Linked DNA regions of Homo sapiens. The protein of the gene in region 2 purifies or fractionates together with the protein of the main gene of each other region. This does not show direct contact. Each region holds a gene or a part of one and is shown on either strand. Other genes may lie near its edges.

The links.
Region 1: the proteins of CCSER1 (region 2) and SMYD2 purify together in Homo sapiens (affinity purification with mass spectrometry; 2 studies listed by BioGRID and IntAct, with this or other methods). This does not show direct contact.
Region 3: the proteins of CCSER1 (region 2) and NDE1 purify together in Homo sapiens (affinity purification with mass spectrometry; 2 studies listed by BioGRID and IntAct, with this or other methods). This does not show direct contact.

Annotation. Positions count from the first base shown.
Region 1 is NC_000001.11:214,326,159-214,333,185, reverse strand, and holds part of SMYD2 (N-lysine methyltransferase SMYD2), read right to left. Parts: intron 5,565-7,027; coding exon 5,462-5,564; intron 3,019-5,461; coding exon 2,908-3,018; intron 2,237-2,907; coding exon 2,116-2,236; intron 1,169-2,115; coding exon 994-1,168; intron 1-993. UniProt on the Homo sapiens protein: Protein-lysine N-methyltransferase that methylates both histones and non-histone proteins, including p53/TP53 and RB1. Specifically trimethylates histone H3 'Lys-4' (H3K4me3) in vivo. The activity requires interaction with HSP90alpha.
Region 2 is NC_000004.12:90,122,937-90,130,402, reverse strand, and holds the start of CCSER1 (serine-rich coiled-coil domain-containing protein 1), read right to left. Parts: upstream 3,010-7,466; 5' UTR 2,572-3,009; intron 2,078-2,571; exon of another isoform or gene 1,918-2,077; intron 1,866-1,917; exon of another isoform or gene 1,741-1,865; intron 1-1,740.
Region 3 is NC_000016.10:15,667,245-15,674,271, reverse strand, and holds part of NDE1 (nuclear distribution protein nudE homolog 1), read right to left. Parts: intron 6,987-7,027; coding exon 6,833-6,986; intron 1,864-6,832; exon of another isoform or gene 1,501-1,863; intron 1-1,500. UniProt on the Homo sapiens protein: Required for centrosome duplication and formation and function of the mitotic spindle. Essential for the development of the cerebral cortex.

The sequences.
Region 1 (7,027 bases), on a different chromosome or scaffold from region 2:
GTTTATCCCCAATTTAACAAATTCTGTTTCCAAGAGCAGATTTTAAGAGCTGGCTTCCTTTGGGCTCCCCCTGCTGGCTAATCAGGGCACAGTGGGGTAAGTAGAGGGTGGAGTGGGCAGTGGACATTCAGACCAGACACAACCTTCACAGACCCTAATCTCGGAAGTGGAAGGAGACTGAGGGCTTCTCAAACTCCTGAGAAACACCTGGGATGCTTCCAGAACACAGATTTCTGGGTCTAATGCCCAGCGACCCTGATTCACTTGGCCCACTTGGTGTTGGACGTACCCTGTAAATGCATAATATCAGTGCCTTTAAAAAGAGCTCCAGTGATCCCATCTAGGCCACCTCAGCCCTGAAGTGTCTAGTCCGAGTCAGAGGACAAAGCCACAACTTCCGTCTGTCACCCACTTTTAGGTTTAGTAACCCTCTCAGGCAGGAAATCTCTCCAGGGCTAATATTCATTATTACTACAAATTAAAAAGCAATTTTTGTTTCTTTTTTCCAAACCTGGGGTGGGGAGATTAGATAACCACGGTCAACCCACTGGTCCCAGAGCTTCCCCATTTGCAAACTGGGGCTGTAATTTGAAAAAGCAAAAGAAGGGGATGGTGTGAGTAATGATGAAAACCAGGGTTTCTGAGACCACCACTTAGTAATTAAACTTGGAAGCAGTGGGTGGGAAAAGAAGCAAACTAGTGGCTTCTCAAAACTAGCCTGAGTTAACTACTATGGATATGGCCCTGGATGGACCTGGGAGGGATCTTGCCCCAGTATCCGCTGCATAACCTCAACCTGTCTCCTTGGGATGATGGTGAGAACAGGCCTGACTCGGGAGCAGTGCCCTGCACCAGCACCTCCAGATGTGGGTGCAGAGAAGAGGCAGCTGCGCTAGGCAAGTCTCAGCAATGGGCAGGAAGATGACACTATCGTATACATTCTAAACAACCAAATTCCACTCCGTGGATGATTAGAACAGCCTCTGCAATCACCTGTAGGGCTTAATGATTTTCTGTCCATATTGCAGGGCTCCTTCCCAGTCCTGCATGTACAAGCAGACACCCATGGCCTGGTACATCATGTGCAACATGTACACGTTACTGTCCTCAAACACAGAGCTCATCTTCTCCTGGCTGAGCTCGCAGATCTCCAGCAGCTCACTAGGGGGTGCTGTGGAGTCAAGGAAAGGGCCACCGGGCCCAAGCTGCCTGGAGGCTTCCCCAGGCTGGGTTCAAGGAGTTATTTCGTCCACTCCACTCTCACCCTTACCCCATGAAAAAGTAACTTACAGAAAGCCAAGCAAAAGTGAAAGGAATTACATTTCTCCAGAAAAAACAAATGAAGAAAACCTGAAGGTCGGAACCGCTCAACTCAAGAATTTTAGCCGCAGGGTCCAGACCCCTAGTTCTGATGTAAACAATGTTGATTAAAATCACGATTCTAATCAAATTCAAATCCTCACCCAAGTTGGAACCCTGAGCACGACTCCCACTGTGGCAAAGTTCTTTCTTATGCTGAGAAACAATGTGCCTTTCTCTCATTTCCTCTCACTGGTTTTAAATTCTACCCTTTAGAGTACAAATCGAATCCCTTTTCAACTCCCAAGAAAATGCTACAATACAATGGTTAAGAATATGGATTCTGATAGAGCTGGGACAAAATCCTAGATCCTATCACCATCAGCTGTGTCCTTTGGGCAAATTACTTAATATCTATCAGGCTGTTTCCTCATCTGCTGCATGGGAATGAGCAGAGTCCCTGCTCAGAGTGTGCCAGTGAGGAGAGCTGAAATAAGCAAGGCCCTTGGCACTGTGCCCTGCCCAAAGTAAAATACCCAAAGCACAAGGCCATCAAGGCTCTGTCCTTCATGGTCCTCCACCACATGGGGCTCCCAGCCAAACTAGCCAAAATAAGGGGAAATAAAATCATACAACTCCAACAGGATGGACACCACATTGTGGGTGGTCAGTACGCCTTTACACATTTACTAGGAGACATTCCTCCTTTGGTTTTCAGAATCTTAAATCCATCCTTCTCCTGCTCCCTCTTTCCAACTTCCCACCTTGCCTTGTTGGCGAGGGATAATAAGCTATCAGGGCAGTTGTAAAGGATATATTTATAGTGCTTGGCCCTCCGGAACTCTTCAATGACGTTGCGTGCATATCTGACCATGTCTCGGATGGCTTCTGCCTTTGGGGGATCGCTGAGCTTCCGGATTTCCACCTTGGCCTTATCCTGAAGGAAACGTCCACAAGGGCAAGGCGTTACCGCCCATGGAAACCACACTGATAGGGAAACCTCTCATATAATACACATTCCCACACAGCGGTCGACACTGGCCCATTCCAAGGTTACAAAAGAATGAAAGGAAATCAGGCAATGCATCTGAAGAAATTCAGTACTCCATTACCTTTTTACAGAAACAAAACAAAAAGATTAATTTTCTAGATACTCCTTATCTAAAATGTGTTGGCTATGGGCAGATATATGTGTTTACACATCTACGAATCAAGAGACTAGAATAAGGAAGGATGGCATTGACGGAACAATTTGGAAAATGCCAGGGAAACTTCCACATATTCTGGTGAACAGGTTGGAAAGCCTAGAGATTATACTCATGTGCTTTTCCCCCCTCCTCCTTTGAGCAGTTGTTTCTTTTCAAGAAAGAGCAGTTCGGCAGACCTTTCTCCTGTTTGTACAGTGTAATGGAAATGTTTTCTTTAGCTACTAGGAGCAGGTCTGAACAGAGACCTGGTCTAACTAGATTCCCTTTGGCTGTCTTTGTAAGGAGGGTTTAAAGGGTCAAAAAGATCCTAGAGGAGATCCGCCAAGTCAGACAAGCTCTTCAGCAGAGAGGTCCTGAGATCAGAGTGCAGTCAGCGCTCTTGCCCAATGAACAACCTTACCTTGTCCTTGGTGGTACACTCCTGGCACTCACAGGTAAAGAAATAAGAATCTCTTAACCGGTCATTTCTATCTTCCGTTGGGTACAGGAGATCAATATAGCTGGTAAAAACCTACGGGGTCCAAAAAGATAAAGCTTCAGTCTGCTACAGGTAAACTCAATCCTTGTCATTCCCGTGCCTTTGCAGTCACCTGCAGGGCCCATGCAGAGGATAAGGCGGGCTGCAGCGGAGGAATGCGCTGTTTACTTTAAGGCACGGAATTCCTGAACTGAGCAGCCACCTGACGTTGGCTTTCTCTGGAAGGTGTTCACTAATCCACAGCTGAACTGGGAGCTGAAGCCAAGGTGCAGGTTAGTGGAAAGAGTCTGTAGAATCAAGGAGTCCTTAAAACAGTGTCCTGGAGGGTTCAGAGGATCCCTGCCTCCCTCAGCTGCCTCTGCCTGGCCTTCATGTAGTTTCATGTTTCACCACCTGAGACGGCGCAAATGCTTCGTTGCCGTCATCACTGGATGCTGCGTGCAGGGGAGGGCATGAGCACGCACACACCACACACATGCAGCTAAGCTCCCCTTCTCCTCACATCAACTGGCAATGGAGCAAGAGGCTCCACTCAGTGGGCTGGGACCCACAGCTCTGGGTGGCCAGCGGAGGGTGAACACATCTTCTAGGACACCAGAATGCTGCGGCCTGGCCCAGCGGGCAGCTCCTGATCCTGCAGGGCAGCGAGCTTGGAAAGTCCTTACCTTTGGTTCATGGGGCTCCACCGTCCTTGCCTTTTCCTAATGGGGTCTGTAACTAAGGCTTGGAGCATATGGAGGAGACCAGCATTTAGATGTCCATTATCTACTCACTGGGACAGCACTGGCTACTCATCCCACACAATCAGGCAAATGTCTGACTGAACAGATGGATCTCATGAAGCCGCTAGCGTGCCAGTGACCACGGGCACCACCAGGCAGGCAGGGGAGGACACGCACAGGGCTGGGTGCTGCAGGGGCAGCTAAGCTCTCCCCAGCCCATGGGGAGGTACTGGACACGTTGCAGCTCACCCCGAAACCCTGGGGAATGGGGTTTCTCCTTCTCTGAAGGGTAAGTAATCCCCAAAGCACTGACTTCCCAAAAATGAGGTTACTGCGTTTCAGATCTGGGAGAACATAAGGGCAAAAGGAAACTGCAGCCACCCCTGCCCTGCCTCACACCACAAGAGCCTGCCAACAATCTCTGTAATGACTGACTCACAGTGCAACATGCGGAAGCTTCCAGAAGATGGCGACAAAGGCCACTCCAGTACCACTGCTCCCAGCCAGACTGAGCCAGCTTAGGTGACAACCTGCTCATCTCTGCAGTCAGCCCACAGGTGCACTGGAGCCTGGGTGACTGCATTCTGACTGGCTGCAATTATCTGTTTCAAGAAAGGCTTCAGAGCAGTCTCCATAAGACCTTTGGAAACTCAGACACCCCAGCCGAAAGGGGACACACCCTCATCGTAATGGATTTAGCTGAAGGTAGAAGGGCCAACCTGCCTGCATCTTGGGCTTCAGCTCCCAGTGCAGCTGTGGATTAGTGAGTGCCTTCCAGAGAAAGCAAAGCACTTGTCATTCAGCACGCTGACAGTTATATTTTACACTTCACACTTCAAATACCCAGGCATGCACCGTAAAATAGCATTACAAATTGCTAAACTGAAATTAACCCAAGTGTGATTACAAGTTCCTAAAAACTCATGTGTCTTGCTGGGAATTTACTTAAGAACACAGAGCATACTACAGCAATCCATCAGGCCAGCCCTTCCCAGGTGAGACGTCTCATGAGGTAGTCAGGAATCACACATGGGAAGGGAACAGGGAATCGCTGAGCAGGTGATGGGAAGACTGGTTCTCTCCACGTCCTGAAGCTGAGGAGGGAAACTAAGGTGCCCCTTGGCCACAGACTGCCTTGACTTCTCCTATTACTGCATATACCTGGACTTTTGATTTAGATTCCTAAAAAGTGAACTGCGACCTGAAGTTCAGATGTGGAACTGATAGAACACGAAATTCTGATGTGTCCCTTGGAGTGCCAGCTCTTTAGCTACTGCTGCGTTGCTTGCTTTCTTTTGCTTTGGACCTTTGAGGGATGGTGGGGAACAAGCAAGAATTCACCAAAAAAAATAAAATAAAATAAGGCTCAAGCTCAGTTGTTTGGCAATAGGGATACAGAGACTCTAAAGATAATCAAAAGTTTGACTGTGGTCATTTTGGTAGTAAATGTCTTCTTTCTCTGTAAATCTCTATAAAGCTTTGGGACAAATTTGACTCAAATTTATTACTTCCTGTTTTTCTTGACCAGAGATGGAAATGTATGTACCAAACAGAAGCCCCAAAGTGTGGGAATCTAAACTACAGGTTACAAATCTGATCACTGACTCCTGGAGAGCCTGAGGGCAGACTCAGCTAAACTGCTGGAGGCATTCACAACTCATACTGTCAAGTGACACTGCACAGATCTGTCCACATTGCCTTTTAAAGAGCAGTCTCAAGCCCCCTGCTGCAGCCACCCATAGCCATGAACTCACCTCCTCTCCCGGCTTGATTTCCTGTACAGCTCTGACTTCTGCCAGGGTCCCTTTGTAGGTCACAATGACATTGGGGCAACAGCTATGATTCATCAATGCAACACTGTCAGTCAGAAGAGAAAACCCAGTTTTTAAAATGAGATAGGCAGACTGTTTAGCTTCCTTCACTACTTACTTGCTAAGTCAGAGGAACTGAATCTTTGCAAGACATTTTTTAAAAATCTAATAGTTGGCTATCACATTCTAAGAGGTTGTTCTGCATGCACTGATAATCCTATCTACCATCTCACACTTTCACCATATTAAAAACTGAAATCCACAATTCAAGTACTATCTAAGCCAAAACCAAAAAACACACAACAGCAAAAACAACAAATGCCACAAATATTCCTCCCTGATAGAATGCAGCTCTCAGAACCCAATACCCACAGCTAATTGCTACTTCACTATACACTGTCAAACACAGGTGCGTTGTCGCTTTCAAGCAGCTTTTTGTATTAGTGGATTATTTCTCACGTTTTTTTCAGATGTTGAGAAATGCCAGCTTCCTAAGGGAGGAAGGGTGTGTGATCCCCTGAGAGACCCGGAGACACCCGTCTGAGTTTCTCTGCACCTCAATTTCCTCATCTGGAAAATTGGGACATTACTGCTCCTGCTGCTCACTGTCTGCTTTTCAGGGACAGCGAGAAGGAGAGAGAGAGATTCGCCTATGCGAGGTGCTTTGAGCTTTCTGATTATATGAAGGTCAAAGTTCTGAGAACAGAAATTTCTAAACTACAGGGAAAAAGTGCTTGATCTCTGAAAATGCTGCCTTTGAAATCACAATGCTGATATGATTTCAGCCCAAAGGGATTTTTTCCCCCAATTAAAACTGCCCAGAAACTGGGGCTCATGCTCCTACGGGCACTCACAGCCATGTGTGTCATTGCTCTGGTGGCCAATGTCACCTCCCTGACCCTCCAGAGACCACAGCCCCTCTCCTGCTTGCTCCGAGAATACAAAAAGGGAAAGGGGTTTCGAAGCCTGATGAGGATGAACTGCCCCAGGCTGGCTATGGCCTATGGCCAAGTGCACTCCCCCACCTCCTGGCTGCTAAAGGCCTAAGCAAAGTATGTGGTTAGCCTGGTGCCTGAGATAAACAGGTAGCAGCTTCCTGGTCTTGACCTCGGGGAGGGCCACCTCTGCACTGCACCAAGGCCCACTTGGCTTCCTGGAAAGTGATGCCCAAGGAATCAGGTCCTAGGAAATCAAATAAACAAATGCATCGAAGGGTAGTTGTATTAAAATAAAAGCACATTTCTAAAACCATCTTGCGGAAGTATTAAATAGCTGAAGGCAGACTCGGGTATCTCTTTAATGAAGGTGGGGGAAATGCACTAAGTCAAAGACCCTAAAACAATTCATGTTCTTGGTATCATAATTCTGTTGGCAACCACTGACAGGTGAGAATCCTCAAAGCACCTCACTCTTTTTTTTTTTTTTTTTTTGAGATGGAGTCTCGGTTTGTTGTCCAGGCTGGAGTGCAGTGGCGCGATCTCAGCTCACTGCAACCTCCACCTCCCGGGT
Region 2 (7,466 bases):
CCCCCGAAGCATTCTCAAACAAAATCCAGTATGAAATGTTATTGTCATGTTCTGAACTCCTGTAGTACTCATTAGACATGTAATCTCTTATTGTTACGGGTTGTTAACTCTACGCTCAAGCATGAGCATCAGATTCCTCCCACATGGCAAGTAAGTTCCTGAAAGACAGGGAACAAGGAATCTCCCGTTCCTCCCCAATGCCTAGACAGTAGTACTTTGCAAACGTTAGGCCCTTTATTATGAGCATTATGATGAGTAATAAAATGCAATAAAGGGTTGAATAACTATTACTGTAAAAATATAACAAATTTTTCATTTTCTACTTTGTTTTATCTAAATTAACATTCTATGGTATAAATAATGTATCTTTAAAATAATAAACAGTTGCTGATTCTCTTAACTGTCAAAAAACAAAATACTCATAAATAGGACTTTTAATGATTGCAATAATACAGTTCATCAATTACATTTTTTAATTCCCTATTATATCTATGTTCAAATAGTTTGGGATAGTTGAGGTAATAACCCTCCGAATGGGGTTCTCCATCTGAGTTCTAACCTAATATTTAAAGCTGCACATGCTTCCGTGTTGAAAATGTATTTCAAAGTAATATAAATCTAACAAAATCAAAATATCAAATCCTTAACTCTGCTTTGTTTTTCAAAGAACAGGACTGTTTAGGAAAGCAATAAAACAATACAAACAACAGTTGGTTTGTTTTGATCAAAATAACTAATTAATTTAAATGAAGACAAATCACTCTGACAATAGGTTGACCAACTTCTCTTTTTTCTCTGTGAAACTATTGAAAGTGTGGTTACAACATGGAATTTCAATATTTGAAAAACATTGTCTTGGCAGGCTTTTAGAGACATTTCAGTTTGCAATATTAAGGATACTGTCCTACTACTAAACCCAGTCACAGTTCTATAAAAGTACAGGTTGCTACTTTTAAGAGAAAACATTCATTTTATAAGCACCGTGACAGGCACTGTCCCAAGGCATCTTTAAGTTTCAAGTTACGTATCTGGAACATGTACCTGTTATAAAGCAAACAGAAAGAGAAACCAAGACAAATTATATTATAGCCTAGATTACCAGTATTTTAGGTCTTCCCTTAATAACCAGTTTTGAAGGAACCAGTGATAACTGACCCCCACCTAGGTGTCCTCTTATCCGTTTTCCCTAAGGCTGTTAATAAAACCAGCTTTACTTTAAACGTGTACACATTATTTTTAATAGTCCTTGAGGGGCAGAGAAGGGAGGATGTGTGTTACATTTCAATAGGAAGGTATTCAACTGTAAAGATTTCAGAAATGAAAGCTGTTGAAACCAAGTAGGTATTTTCTGACTTGTAAGTCCTACTGACTGCCTGAAAAGGTAAGAGGGGTGGAGAAGAGGACATAAAAACATTAAAGGGCAAAGAATCTGTAACTTCTAAGAAGTATTTTTTTCTACCTGTAAAAATATGAGTTTTTTTTTTACTTCATTTCATATTCCATGTCCCACGAGAGGAAGGGGAAGCATAATTGCTTCTAATTCTGAGGCAGGGAGAGGAGAGAGAGAGAGAGAGAAAGAGAGCAGTTCAGGATACACTAAAAGGAAACCCCAAGAAATTTCACAACTCTTTGCCATAAATAGCCTTTCTTCTCACTCTGGATACCTCCTCCTTTACATCAGCAAGGCTCAGCCTCCACGCACGCAGAAGCACCATTCACAAATCCCTCCGTCACCCTTACCCCTTGCTGGCACCGTGTGTACGAGTCCCTGGGACACAAGCCAAAAGTCGAAGGGGCCAGGGGGCCACATGCGGTTTCAGCTTACGGCTGACTTTCTGCTCAGGTGAACCAACCCACTGGTTAGTCCAGAGCGCGCGCGCGCGCGCACACACACACACACACACACACGCACACAACCTGGGGCCCTTGACGCTCCACCACAAAGCAAGTGGTTCAATCTAAGTCGCTGCCGTTACTGCTGCCTCTGGGCAGGGTCTTGCTTCCAATCCAGGAAACTGGCGCCAGAGGACAAGCAGGCGGAGGCAAGAGGTGGTCCCGGCCCCGCACTGCGGTTCCTCCGGGAGCCCCTGGCTCCCCGCCCCCTCCTCCCCTTCCCCCTCTTCGCCGCCGTCCCCGCCTCAGCACCCGCAGCCCGGGGCGCCAGCGCTGACCGGTCGCCTCTACCTGCGGGACGCGAGTGGCGAGGAAGGGGAGCGACCCGAAGCCTGCGCCAACTCTCGCCGCCTTGGCCAGCGCTCCGCATCGCCCTGGAGCGGCCGCCGCGGCCGCAGGCAGCAAACCACGCAGCAGCGTGGAGGAAATGGCCACGCGGCGCACTGGGAGTCGCGGGCCGGTGGTGAGCGAGCCCGCCCGCCTCCTTCCCACCCCGCCCGCAAGGCCAGGTCTCTGCGCCGAGCACGCCGGGCCTGGGCGCGCGCTGCTCGCAGGCGGCCCCGACACGGCGCGGTCACCTGCCGAGCGGTCATCCCCGCGTCCGCCTGCGGCCGGCCCCGCAAAGCGGCGACGCGACGCGCGACCCGCTGAGCGCTGAGGCACCAGGGGCGTTACTACCTTGAGGGCTCCGTGCGCTTGTTAAGGCTCCTCCCGGGCACTCAGGGATTTATGTCTTCGGGGCACGGGGGTGTCCTTCCTGGTCCCCCTCCTCTGCCCTCCCTCCCCTTCTCGGCTGTTGGGCTCCTCTCCACTCCCAGTTGCACAGAGTCCAGCTGCGTTATTTAATAATCCTCCTGCTCCTCCTGCCTGCGCCAGCGGAGCTGCTCTGCCCGAGCCACCGCTTCCCAGTCAGTCATGTTGAGACAGAGAGAGAGAGAGAGGAGAGGCGGATTGGCAGTAGGTCGGCGACTATTTGTGGTGAGGGAGAGAAGAGCAGAGCAAGAGGAGGGCAGGGGAGGGACGTGGGGAGGCGCTTCCAAGTGTGTGAGTGCGCGGAGTGTGACTGTGTGGGGAGCGCGAGATCCACCTCCCCGGCAGGCCGCGCTCCGGGGCTGTGAGGAGGGCGGGCCCAAGCGCGGCCTTTATACAAGGAGGAGTGTGGTGGGCTGGGCGGGGCGGCTTGGAGGGCGGTGCCCGGCCCACTGCGTCCGCCGGATTCCACGCACGCATCCTCTGGCATCGACGCGCGCACACCCACTGCTGGCCCGCTGCTGAGTTTTCATTTTAGGGGAAGCAGTATCCCACCGTGCTGACCTGGCCTTTTCCCCCAGTCCATCCTAGTGCTTATGTGGAGTTCAAGTGCATAGGCAGGTCAAGACTAAAGAATAGGGGAAGTCTGAAGAGACGTGAAGTGACTGCGGGGATGCTGGAAATAAATGCACTGTATTTCTCCTCTCCAAGGTTCCGATGTTATCTTTTTTCTCTTCCTCCTGTAAGGGAAGGAATTACCAGATTCTTTCGCCGCTTTTCCTTCTCACCCACACAATTCACATCCTGACAAGTGTCTTCATTCCTCAGTAACAAGAAAAGAAACCTAGCTTCTTTCCTTTAAGCAGGTCACACCTCCCAGGAACCATTTGCAGCAATCAATTCTGTAAGATAATGCAAGCACTGCGACTGTGTCCGAGAGTGGAACTTGTGTTCCTACAAGGAAGGCCCTACACAATACAGGCATTACAAGAGAATCAGCTCAATTTGACATCATTTGACTGATGGTCCCCTGGAGAAAATTTGCCAGTTTAGAAATCGAAAAGACTTTTGATGCATGGTTCTGTTGCCTACATAATTTATTTTCCCCTGATCCTCTCTCCCCTTGCACTGCCTCATTTCCTTTCAGGTTTACACTAAGTACTGAACTCTTTCCCATCCATCCCCTTCTTTATCTCCACTCCAGTATATTTATGCCTTTAGCAGGCAATACAGCAAATGTAGTGCATTTAATTCTGTGTGTGTGTGTGTGTGTGTGTGCGCGCGCGCATCTGTTTTTAACCCATTCTGGTAGAATGTAGGACCATTTCTAGGTAGAAAATGCATCCCCAATATTAAGTTTGTACGCCTAACATCACCTCCCTTACCTTCTGCCCAGATTACAAGATGTTGTGATCAGGTGCACTGAGGTATTGAGAAAAACTTCCAGAAATCAAGTGATCTACAGTTTTTTCAAGGTGTGTTTGTGTGTGCGCGTGCGCGTGCGCACGCTCTGTGTAATCTAACTGGCTATGATCTAACTTCTGAAATGTGGTTATATTGGGAATAAAAGCAAGATGTATTTTTTAAATGAATCTGAGTGGTCAATGTATATTACAGCATGGGGACAACTCTGCTTTTGGGAGACAATTATAGGAAACATTTTTCATAAATTAGACAAAAGGAAGATAAGATTTAGGAGGCTACGGAGGAGGCGGCAAGGTTGACAATTCAGTTGTCCTATCTTCTTCCATGGCTTGTGACCATCGTACATCTTTAGGGTTTTGTCATATGCTGGCACCTTATATATTCTCCACATATTTTACCCTTTCACATTGATGTTCCTGTCTCGTAATTCTTCAATCTCTCATACAGAGTTTAGCAAACATTAAAAATGATTTAAGCATGTGATCAAGACCTAACAAAGAAGTGATATTAAGGAGTGTGATAAAAACAAAGTGATATTGGAAAGGACAGCAAGTTGGGACAGGTGCGTGAATATATCAATAATATAAGTATATAGGCCATTAAAGCTTCTTTGATTAAGCACTGGAAAAATGAATGGACTAACAAAGCATATTGGGATTGATAGTGTGCCCTATGGGACAGCTATTATTATTTCCTCAATTTTACAGACCAAGAAAGTTAAATTTTGAAAGTGTGTGTAGATAACCTAAGATCATACAAAGAATAAATAATGTCAATGGAACTCAATCTGTCTTATTCTACTGTCCATATCATGTCCCATTCAGAAGGCCTGGCTTACTTAAAAATCTCAGGACTTTCCTTAGAGCTTTTGTTTATGAAATAAGCTGACCTACAATCCTTTGGCATTTTTCTTCTACCTCCCTCCTTCTTTTTACAATGCAAGAGCGATTTATGAAATGTTAATGTTTTTTAGGGCTGGTCAACAATTTAAAAAGTCTTAACATACTTGAACTCATAAATGGAAAAAGAAAACTTTCCTACACAGTCCTTTCTGAAAGAAACCTGGTGTCATTGTAAAACGAAATTTTGTAGAGGAGATATTACTGAACATTTGCATCTAGTGAATACATAGGTGGTTTGAGAGCCGTAAACAGACATTTTAAAAGGTTATGTCCTCCTAAAGGGATGATACTCAATCATATTCAGCAAGTTTGTGGTGTTTTCAGTGTCCTGGTTCTCTATTTAATTGTCATTAATAACAATAATTTGATTATGACTGTATATTGCATACTTCAAAATTATATATTAGACCAGATATTTCAAGGGCATTTTTGGTAACCACAAATGATAGTAATTTTTACACTCTCAGTTCCATTCATAATTACTGAGAACCATGAAAAGCTGTCAATTGCCTTTATTCATTACGGTATTACAGGAAGCCAACATTTCTTGCTTAATTTTCTGACAATTTTTCTTTCCAAATAAAGGCTAGAATTTATATGCACTAGACCAGAAAGACATGTGAAACATATAACTTAAAACATACTCCTGAAAAGTTTATTCATTTTAATGATTTTGTATTTTTGTTGAAAAAAATCTGCACTAGAAACCCCATTTATAAATTATAATGAACCACATTTTAGAAGTTAAGTAAATGAATTATTCTCTTTTAAGATTGTTTAATGTTTCAAGTAGAATTCCCCACTTTGCAACACTTTCAATGATACAATTTTTGTTGTGATAGGAAAACAGAAAAAGTTAATGACTCTTTCCAATTTGTTCATTTTAATCTCATGTATGCTTGCTGCTGTTTGGTTCCCAAGTGCATTTAACTGGCAAGTTCAATGAAGATTTGGCATTGCACCATTTGATGAAAGCAGAAAAATTAGGTTGCCAATTACATATGTGCCCCTTATGTGCACTGAATTCCCACTGAAGTGATGAGCCAAATTAGAAATTCCTCAGTAGTCATACCTAAAAAGTAAAATTATAGCCCAGGGAAGGAAAGGGAGATTTTTTTCCCCAACCCTATTACTAGTCTAAGACATTTTAGAAAGAGAATTAACTTTAATACATTTGTAAAACAATGTTTGTAGGTGGAGTGTCATTAAACATTTTTAAATTGCATTTCTTTTGTTCTTTCCAAGCTATTTTATGTTTCTTTGATTTACTTTATACTCTATCGTGATTAGCCAATCATTATGAAAAAATATATGAAGACCATTTCCCCTAGTTGTTTTAGCCTAATGGAATACAAAAATTCAAGAAAATATTACGCATATGTTATTAGCATTCTGGATTTCTTTCATATTACTAAGAAGTAAATTATCCTTCTGTGATGACTTTTGTAATATGAAAGTGGCATCATTAGTACCTTAGAGCGACAGGACTAGTTAATTGACATCAAGGCTAAAACTGGCACTTAGTTCAAGACAAGGACTGATGAGAAAGTGTGAGATAGGAGATGTGCAGATGGACTCAGCTGCAGTTCTAGGTCCAGAGAGCACAGAAAAACTCAATCTTAATGTAGAAAACTCTTAGCTGGGCAAGTTTCCAGGTAGACAAGGCACAGTAGACAAGACTTTAAATAAAATTATTCTTCAGATATCTGATAGTGGTGACTATACTTGGTAAATTGTCTTTTTGCTGTGGAAATTCTGCCCAGTGGCAGGACAGCAAGATCTATTCATGTGGAAATCTAGGCAGAAGCTAAACTCAGGTGACTGGGTCAAAGCACTCACTGCATGAGCTGTCTTTGGTCTGGAAACTCCACAAGACACCTAGGATTCATGCTGTAGGACATACTTGGGAGCAAGACTATAAAGGTGAATGTAAGCCACTATCCTTGTATCTTGGCTATCATGTCCCGGATTTACCAAATGATGTAATTCTAAGCCCATTTTGTGGGCTAAGAGGATGGATAATAGAGGACATGGAGAGGCATCTCTTACCCAGCAACTGAAGTAATCTTGAATTTCCAGGAAGACTACCCAGTTTAGGGAGCTGAAAAAATTTCGAATAGTGTATAGATTTGTCAAAATAAAAATGATTTCCATTTTACATAACGCCATGAGCCCAGAATTTCACAATATAAGAGTAGCTTTATATAAATGACAAAAACTAGGAAATGCATTTTTCACATTTAAGTGGTGAAATGTAGTGAAAGGAGGCAAGAGCTAACATTAATGTTCTCTGAATTTAAGCCTCTCTGTTTATTAAGGGAGGAAAACTGAGTTAAAATAATGTTTATTAACATAAAACAAAAAATTTTGTAAACAGATTCACCATTAGAAACTTTTATATCATTTTCACATCTTTGTTTCTCTTTATTTTTTTAATTAATTAATTGTTTTTTTGGAAACAGAGTCTCACCATGTTGCCCAGGCTGGTCTCGAACT
Region 3 (7,027 bases), on a different chromosome or scaffold from region 2:
CTCCATCTCAAAACAAACAAACAAAAACTAAGACAGAAGGGAGGGAGAAGATGGAGGAAGGGAAAGGGAGAGAAAAGGAGAGGAGAGAGACAGAGAGGGAGATCTTGTTAATTACCAAAGAAACAGTCCAGCGCACTTCTCAATGATTCCCTGTTGCCAGCTGCAGCAATAACATCCATTACATACTTATTCTGTGCTGGCCTCCAGGCTAAGTACACTTCCTATGTTGTCTCGTTTAATTCCACTTCAGAGACATGAACACTGAGACTCAATTACTTAACTAGCCCAGAATCAACCAGTAGCAAATGACTGGGCCAAGACCAAACCCCAGCCTCCTGAGCAGGTGTCCTTAAGCAATTATGCTAACCAGCCCTAAACCATCTCAATCCAGATCACCTGCCCGTTCCCGTGCTCTCTCGATTCTATTCCTGCTCTGCTTCCAAATTACTTTCCTTCACCAAACACCCAGAGCCAGGTGCGGTGCCTCATGCCGCAATCCCAGCACCTCAGGTGGCAGAGGCATATTAGCCTAGGCAACATAGGAAGACTCCATCTCTACAGAAAATTTAAGAACAGCCAGGCGTGGTGGCATGCACCTGCAGTCCTAGCTATGGGGGAGGCTGAGGTGGGAGGACTGCTTGAGGCCAGGAGGTTGAGGCTCCAGTAAACTATGATCATGCCACTGCACTCTAGCCCAGGCCAACGCTTAAAAAAAAAAAAAAAATCACCAGCCTGGGGCAACATGGCGAAACCAAAATACAAAAATTAGCCCGGCATAGTGGTGCACGGCTGTAGTTCCAGCTACTTGGGAGGCCAAGGCGGGCAGATCACTTGAGGTCAGGAGTTTGAGAACAGCCTGGCCAACACGGTGAAACCCCCGTCTCTACCAAAAATACAAAAAATAGCTGGGTGTGGTGGCAAGTGCCTATGGTCCCAGCTACCCGGGAGGCAGGGGAATCGCTTGAGCCCGGGAGGCGGAGGTTGCAGTGAGCCAAGATTGTGCCCCTGCACTCCAGCTTGGGTGACAGAGACCCCATCTCAAAAAAAAATCAAAACCGAAAACACAAAACACCCATCCTAGATTCTACAAACATAAGAGAAAACACTTCCCACAAGAAAGGCGCAAGGTCTAATTTAAAAGTTAAAAAAGGCCAACTTCTCTTTACTCAATCAAGTAAACAAAGCCGTTGCTAGAAAGTCCGGATGCACCCAGGGTGATGTAATGGTGCCTAGGCCAGAGAGGCGTGGCGAGAGCCATTGTGCAAGAAGACTCCAAAGAAAGAACAAACAGATGATTTACAGCGTTGGAAGGATGAGGAGGGCGGACCACATCCCTGCTGCCGCCCGCAGCACCCTCCCCATTTCCTGGCTGTAAGCAGAGAAGTATCTGCACCCAGCAAGTAGAGGCAGACCAGGCCCTGTTCCCAGGCGTGGCTCTCATCGCCTCACACCCTTTATTTGGGAACATCTCCAAATAAAACAGGATCTTAAGTCATTAACCTAAATTCAAACGCAGGCTCCAGGAGGACGCAGCGAGTGGGCTCCACCGACTGCACTGGCGATTGAGAGATCTCCTCGGAACCTGTGGACATGAAAACCTGTTGCTGAAATGTTGTGCTGCCATTTGGGGCTAATTCGAATAAGCTGTCAGCTGATGGGGGCATCAATAGATGCTCTGTTTGGTCCCTTAAAGGCTTTTTCATTCAACCCGTGATGAATAAGCCAGTTGTTAAGAAGTCCGGCCCAGCTGAATATATTTCTCTTAGGTGACTGACAAATACTTGCTGGTGGCAGGGTCCTCGTTATTCCAAGGTACCCTGTTTCTTCACTGTGCTGTGTGCTCTGAGTCTCCTGCATCTGACATGTGGCTGCAGTACAGTGGCGCAATCTCAGCTCACTGCAACCTCCACCTCCTAGGTTCAAGCAATTCTCCTGCCTCAGCCCCCGAGTAGCTGGGACTACAGGTGTGCGCCACCATGCCCAGCTAATTTTTTTATTTTTAGTAGAGACGGGGTTTCACCATGTTAGCGAGGACAGTCTCAATCTCTTGACCTCATGATCCGCCCGCCTCGGTCTCCCAAAGTGCTGGCATTACAGGCATCAGCCACCACGCCAGGCCCAAGAGCTCAGTCTTGAAGCAGAGAATTACTGAGTAATTCTCTTGATATTTTACTCAGGATCCATGGAGGGCCTGTTATCCTCTCCAAACTGCAGTTCATACCACTAATCTTCCTCCTACCCAGCTTTTCAACCCAGAGTCCCCTTCAATTTAGGAACTATAATCAGCCAGGCGCAGTGGCTCACACCTGTAATCCCAGCACTTTGAGAGGCCGAGGCAGGCGGATCACTTGAGCTCAGGAGTCCCAGACTAGCATGGGCACATGAACCCGTCTCTACAAAAAATAACAAAAATTAGCCAGGCGTGGTGTGGCAGGTGCCTGTAATCTCAGCTACTTGGGAGGCTGAGGTGGGAGGATCACTTAAGCCTGGAAGTCAGAGGTTGCAGTGAGCTGAGATCACACCACTGCACTCCAGCCTGGGTGACAGGGGGAGACTCTGTCTCCAACAGCAAAAACAACAACAACAAAAAGAACGATAATCATTGCTCATTGTGTGTAGCAGGTGTTCAGCTGTTAACAAATGGGTGAAGTGGGCCAAGTACAGGGAGAGGCAGATGACACTAAGGTCTCCGTGTCACGGATATGGGGATTGGGGGAAACTCAACAATGTGTGTTCTAAACAACCACTACTCAGGTTTTTTATTTTTTAACTTTTGCTCTGTCACCCAGGATGGAGTGCAATGGTACAATCATAGCTCACTGCAGCCTCAACCTCCTGGGCTCAAGCAATGCTCCTGCCTCAGCCTCTTGAGTAGCTTAGACTACAGGTGTGCACTACCATGTCCAATGAATTTTTTATTTTTATTTTTTTGTAGAGACAGAGTCTCGCTATGTTGCCCAGGCTGGCCTTGAACTCCTGGTCTCAAGCAATTCTCCCTCCTCAGCCTCTCAAAGGGCTGGGATTACAAGTATGAACCACCATGCCTGGCCAGAAATCCATCTTTTTACAGGAAGCTTTACAAATTTTGATGGATGGGGGAATATATATAATAAAAGGCAAGTAAGTAGGGGAAATATTATTGGTAGAGCCTAGGTGGTGGTGGATACACAGGTATTCACTGGAAATTCTTTCAGCCTTATATGCTGGAAAACGTTCATGGGGAAATGCTGAACAAAAACCCCTGAAGGCGATCAAACAACACCTATGGGGCAGATGGATCTGCAGACGGCCAGCTGCACTCTGTGGTCTCCAACAGAAAGCTTCAGCTTCAATGACCACCTTCAACGTGTCTGGGACCTCTCCTCCGCCCTGCCCCAAACCCCCAATCCATTTGTTGGTCCCACACCCTTTCCTATACATTAGTAAAGCTGGGCTTGCCAAGGTCCACCCGACACCCATTCTTGTCCACGTCTGTGATGGGTACAGATCAACTCTCCTTCAGCCCCATCTCCCCAAGCACCAAGTGTCAGCAACACATACACCTACAAACACCCTCCACACAGCCTCCCTCAACCCATGCAGTCCTTTCTTTTTCTTTCTTTTTTTTTTTTTTTGAGACAGAGTTTCGCTCTTGTTGCCCAAGCTAGAGTGCAATGGTGCAATCTCGGCTCACTGCAACCTCCGCCTCCCGGGTTCAAGTGATTCTCCTGCCTCAGCCTCCCAAGTAGCTGGGATTACAGGCACATACAACAACACCCAGCTAATTTTGTAGTTTTAGTAGAGACAGGGTTTTGTCATGTTGGTGAGGCTGGTCTCAAACTCCCAACCTCAGGTGATCTGCCCACCTCGGCCTCCTGAAGTGCTGGGATAACAGGCATGAGCCACCGCACCCAGCCAGTCCTTTTTCTCTTGAAAGGCCCCCACATCAGAGTTCTGTGACTGAGCTTCACGTCCCCAACTGCTTCATGGCATTAGGTTTGTCTTCCCAAAGAAGGCAACCAGCACTTCCCCTTTCACCGTCCATCATACCTAGCCCTGGGCACACACAGTTTTGACTCTTCCATGAAGCAGCTCATCAAAATGTACATTGGGAGTTTAATGAGAAAAAGAAAACCACACAGACATGCCAGGGCCCCACCCAGACTTACTGAGAAATGGAATCTCAGAGCAAGGCGGGGAGATGGGGATGGGGAGAGAGGGTTCAGGCCTGTCGGATGTTTATGAAGCTGGCCTAGTGATGCTGGCTGGCAGCTAAGGCTGAGAGCCAGTCTCTGGGGCACGGTGTTGACTTAGTGATCCCTTGCTGAGCCCTACAGCATGTACAGAAGGGATGGTTTTTACCTTGCAGAGCACTGGGTCTCCAGATACCTGGCTATGTCTAGAGGTGCTTTTGGTTTTCACCACCTTGGAGGTGCGGGGAATGCTACTGGCATCTAGAGGGTGGAGGCCAGGGATGCTGCCAAACATCCCACAGTGTGGTCAGGCGGGGTGACTCATGCTTGTAATCCCAGCACTTTGGGAGGCTGAGGCGGGCGGATCACCTGAGCTCAGGAGTTCGAGACCAGCCTGGCCAACATGGTGAAACCTCGTCCTTGCTAAAAATACAAAAATTAGCCGGGCGTGGTGGCTCACACCTGTAATCCCAGCACTTTGGGAGGCTAAGGCGGGTAGATCACACTGTCAAGAGATCAAGACCATCCTGGAAAACATGGTGAAACCCCATCTCTACTAAAAATACAAAAATTAGCCAGGCATGGCGGTGTGTGCCTGTAATCTCAGCTACTCAGGAGGCTGAGGCAGGAGAATCACTTGAACCCAGGAGGTGGAGGTTGCAGTGAGCCGGGATTACGCCACTGCACTCCAGCCTGGCAACAGAGTGAGACTGCGTCTCAAAAAAAAAAAAAAAAAAAATTAGCCAGGCGTGGTGGAGGGTGCCTGTAATCCCAGCTACTCAAGAGGCTGAGGCGGGACAATCACTTGAACCTGGGAGGCGGAGGTTGCAGTGAGGTGAGATTGTGCCACTGCACTCCAGCCTGGGCAACAGAGCAAGACTCCATCTCAAAAAAAAAACAGGCTGGGCACAGTGGCTCACGCCTGTATTCCCAGCACTTTGGGAGGCTGAGGCAGGCGGATCCTGAGGTCAGGAGATCAAGACCATCCTAGCTAACACGGTGAAACCCCGTTTCTACTAAAAATACAAAAAATTTAGCCAGGCGTGGTGGCAGGCGCCTGTAGTCCTAGCTACTCGGGAGGCTGAGGCAGGAGAATGGTGTGAACCTGGGAGGCGGAGCTTGCAGTGAGCCGAGATCGCGCTACTGCACTCCAGCCTGGGCAACAGAGCAAGACTCCATCTCAAAAATACAAAACAAACAAACAAAAAACCCACAAAGCAAACCTCAGTCCCTCCCAACGGAGGATGATCCGGGCTCCAATGTCAACAGCAGCCAGGTCGAGAAACCTGCTCTGAACTGGCAGAGTGCAACACACCTTTTGGTAATGAAGGAAATGGTCTGCAGCCCCTCTGTCCACTAAGGAAACTCACTGGCCACACGTGGCTCCTAAGCACTTGAAATGTGGCTACTGTGACTGAGGAATTAAGTTTTTATTTTAATTCATTAAATTTCAACAGCCAAATGTAGCTAAGGGCTACAATATTGGACCTGATGATATTACTCTAGCAACACCTCCATACCCTAAAAATGTCTCCCTGGCCAGGTGGTGGCTCATGCCTATAATCCCAGCAATTTGGGAGGCCAAGGCAGGAGGACTGCTCGCGTCCAGGAGTTCAAGACCAGCCTGGGCAACACAGCGAAACCCTGTCTCTATAAAAAATACAAAAACTAACCAGGCATGGTGCCGCATGCCTGTAGTCTCAGCTACTCCCGAGGTTCAGGTGGAAGGACTTTGGTTTTTTTTGAGACGGAGTCTCGCTCTGTTGCCAGGCTGGAGTGCAGTGGCACAATCTCAGCTCACTACAGCCTCCAACCATCAAGTGATTCTCCTGCCTCAGCCTCCCAAGTAAGCTGGGACTATAGGCGTGTACCACCACGCCCAGCTAATATTTGTAATTTTAGTAGAGACAGGGTTTCATCATGTTGGCCAGGATGGTCTCAATCTCTTGACCTCGTGATCTGCCCACCTCAGCCTCCCAAAGTGCTGGGATTACAGGTATGCACCACCTCGCCCGGCCCAGGTGAGAGGACTGCTTAAACCTGAGACGTCCAGGGTGCAGTGAGCTGTAATCCAGCCACTGTACTCCAGTCTGGGCAACAGAGCAAGACCCTGTTTCAAAAAAAAAAAAAAGTCTCCCTGCCATGTGCCCTATAAAATCAGTGTACACAACCAAGAAAGTCCACGGGAACATGTGTGTGACTTGCTTCTCAAAGCTCCACCCATCATGGATCCCGAGGTCAGGAGTTCGAGACCAGCCTGGCCAACATAAAACCCCGTCTCTACTACAAATACAAAAAAAATTAGCCAGGCGTGGTAGCAGGCGCCTATAATCCCAGCTACTCAGGAGGCTGAGGCAGGAGAATTACTTGAACCTGGGAGGTGGAGGTTGCAGTGAGCCAAGATCGCGCCACTGCCCTCCAGCCTGGGCAACAAGAGTGAAACTCCATCTCAAAAAAAAAAAAAAAACAAAACAAAAAGCACCACCCACTAGAGGCACAAAGAGTTCAAAGATCACGTCTGCCGCACAGGCCCTTCCAGAGATGAGCATGGGCCTGGGGTCTGGAGTCCCTCATTGCAGGGTTCCTTCTTCCAGCCAAGCATGCCATGCCTGTGTTGGACGCCTGTCTACACCTGAGCACACTTCCTCTCAGCCCCTCACCTTGATGGTTTCCAGCTCCATGCGAAGGCGGTTATTTTCGGACAGGAGGTCTCTGTTCCTGGTTTCAATTTGTTGCAGCTGCGTCTCCAATTCAGCTTCATATTCTCGGCTTCCCTCCTGGAATTCTCGGAGTTCCTCTTGCGTATTTTCTGCCCTACAGCAAAATTGTTAATCATCACGTAGTAATATTTTTGA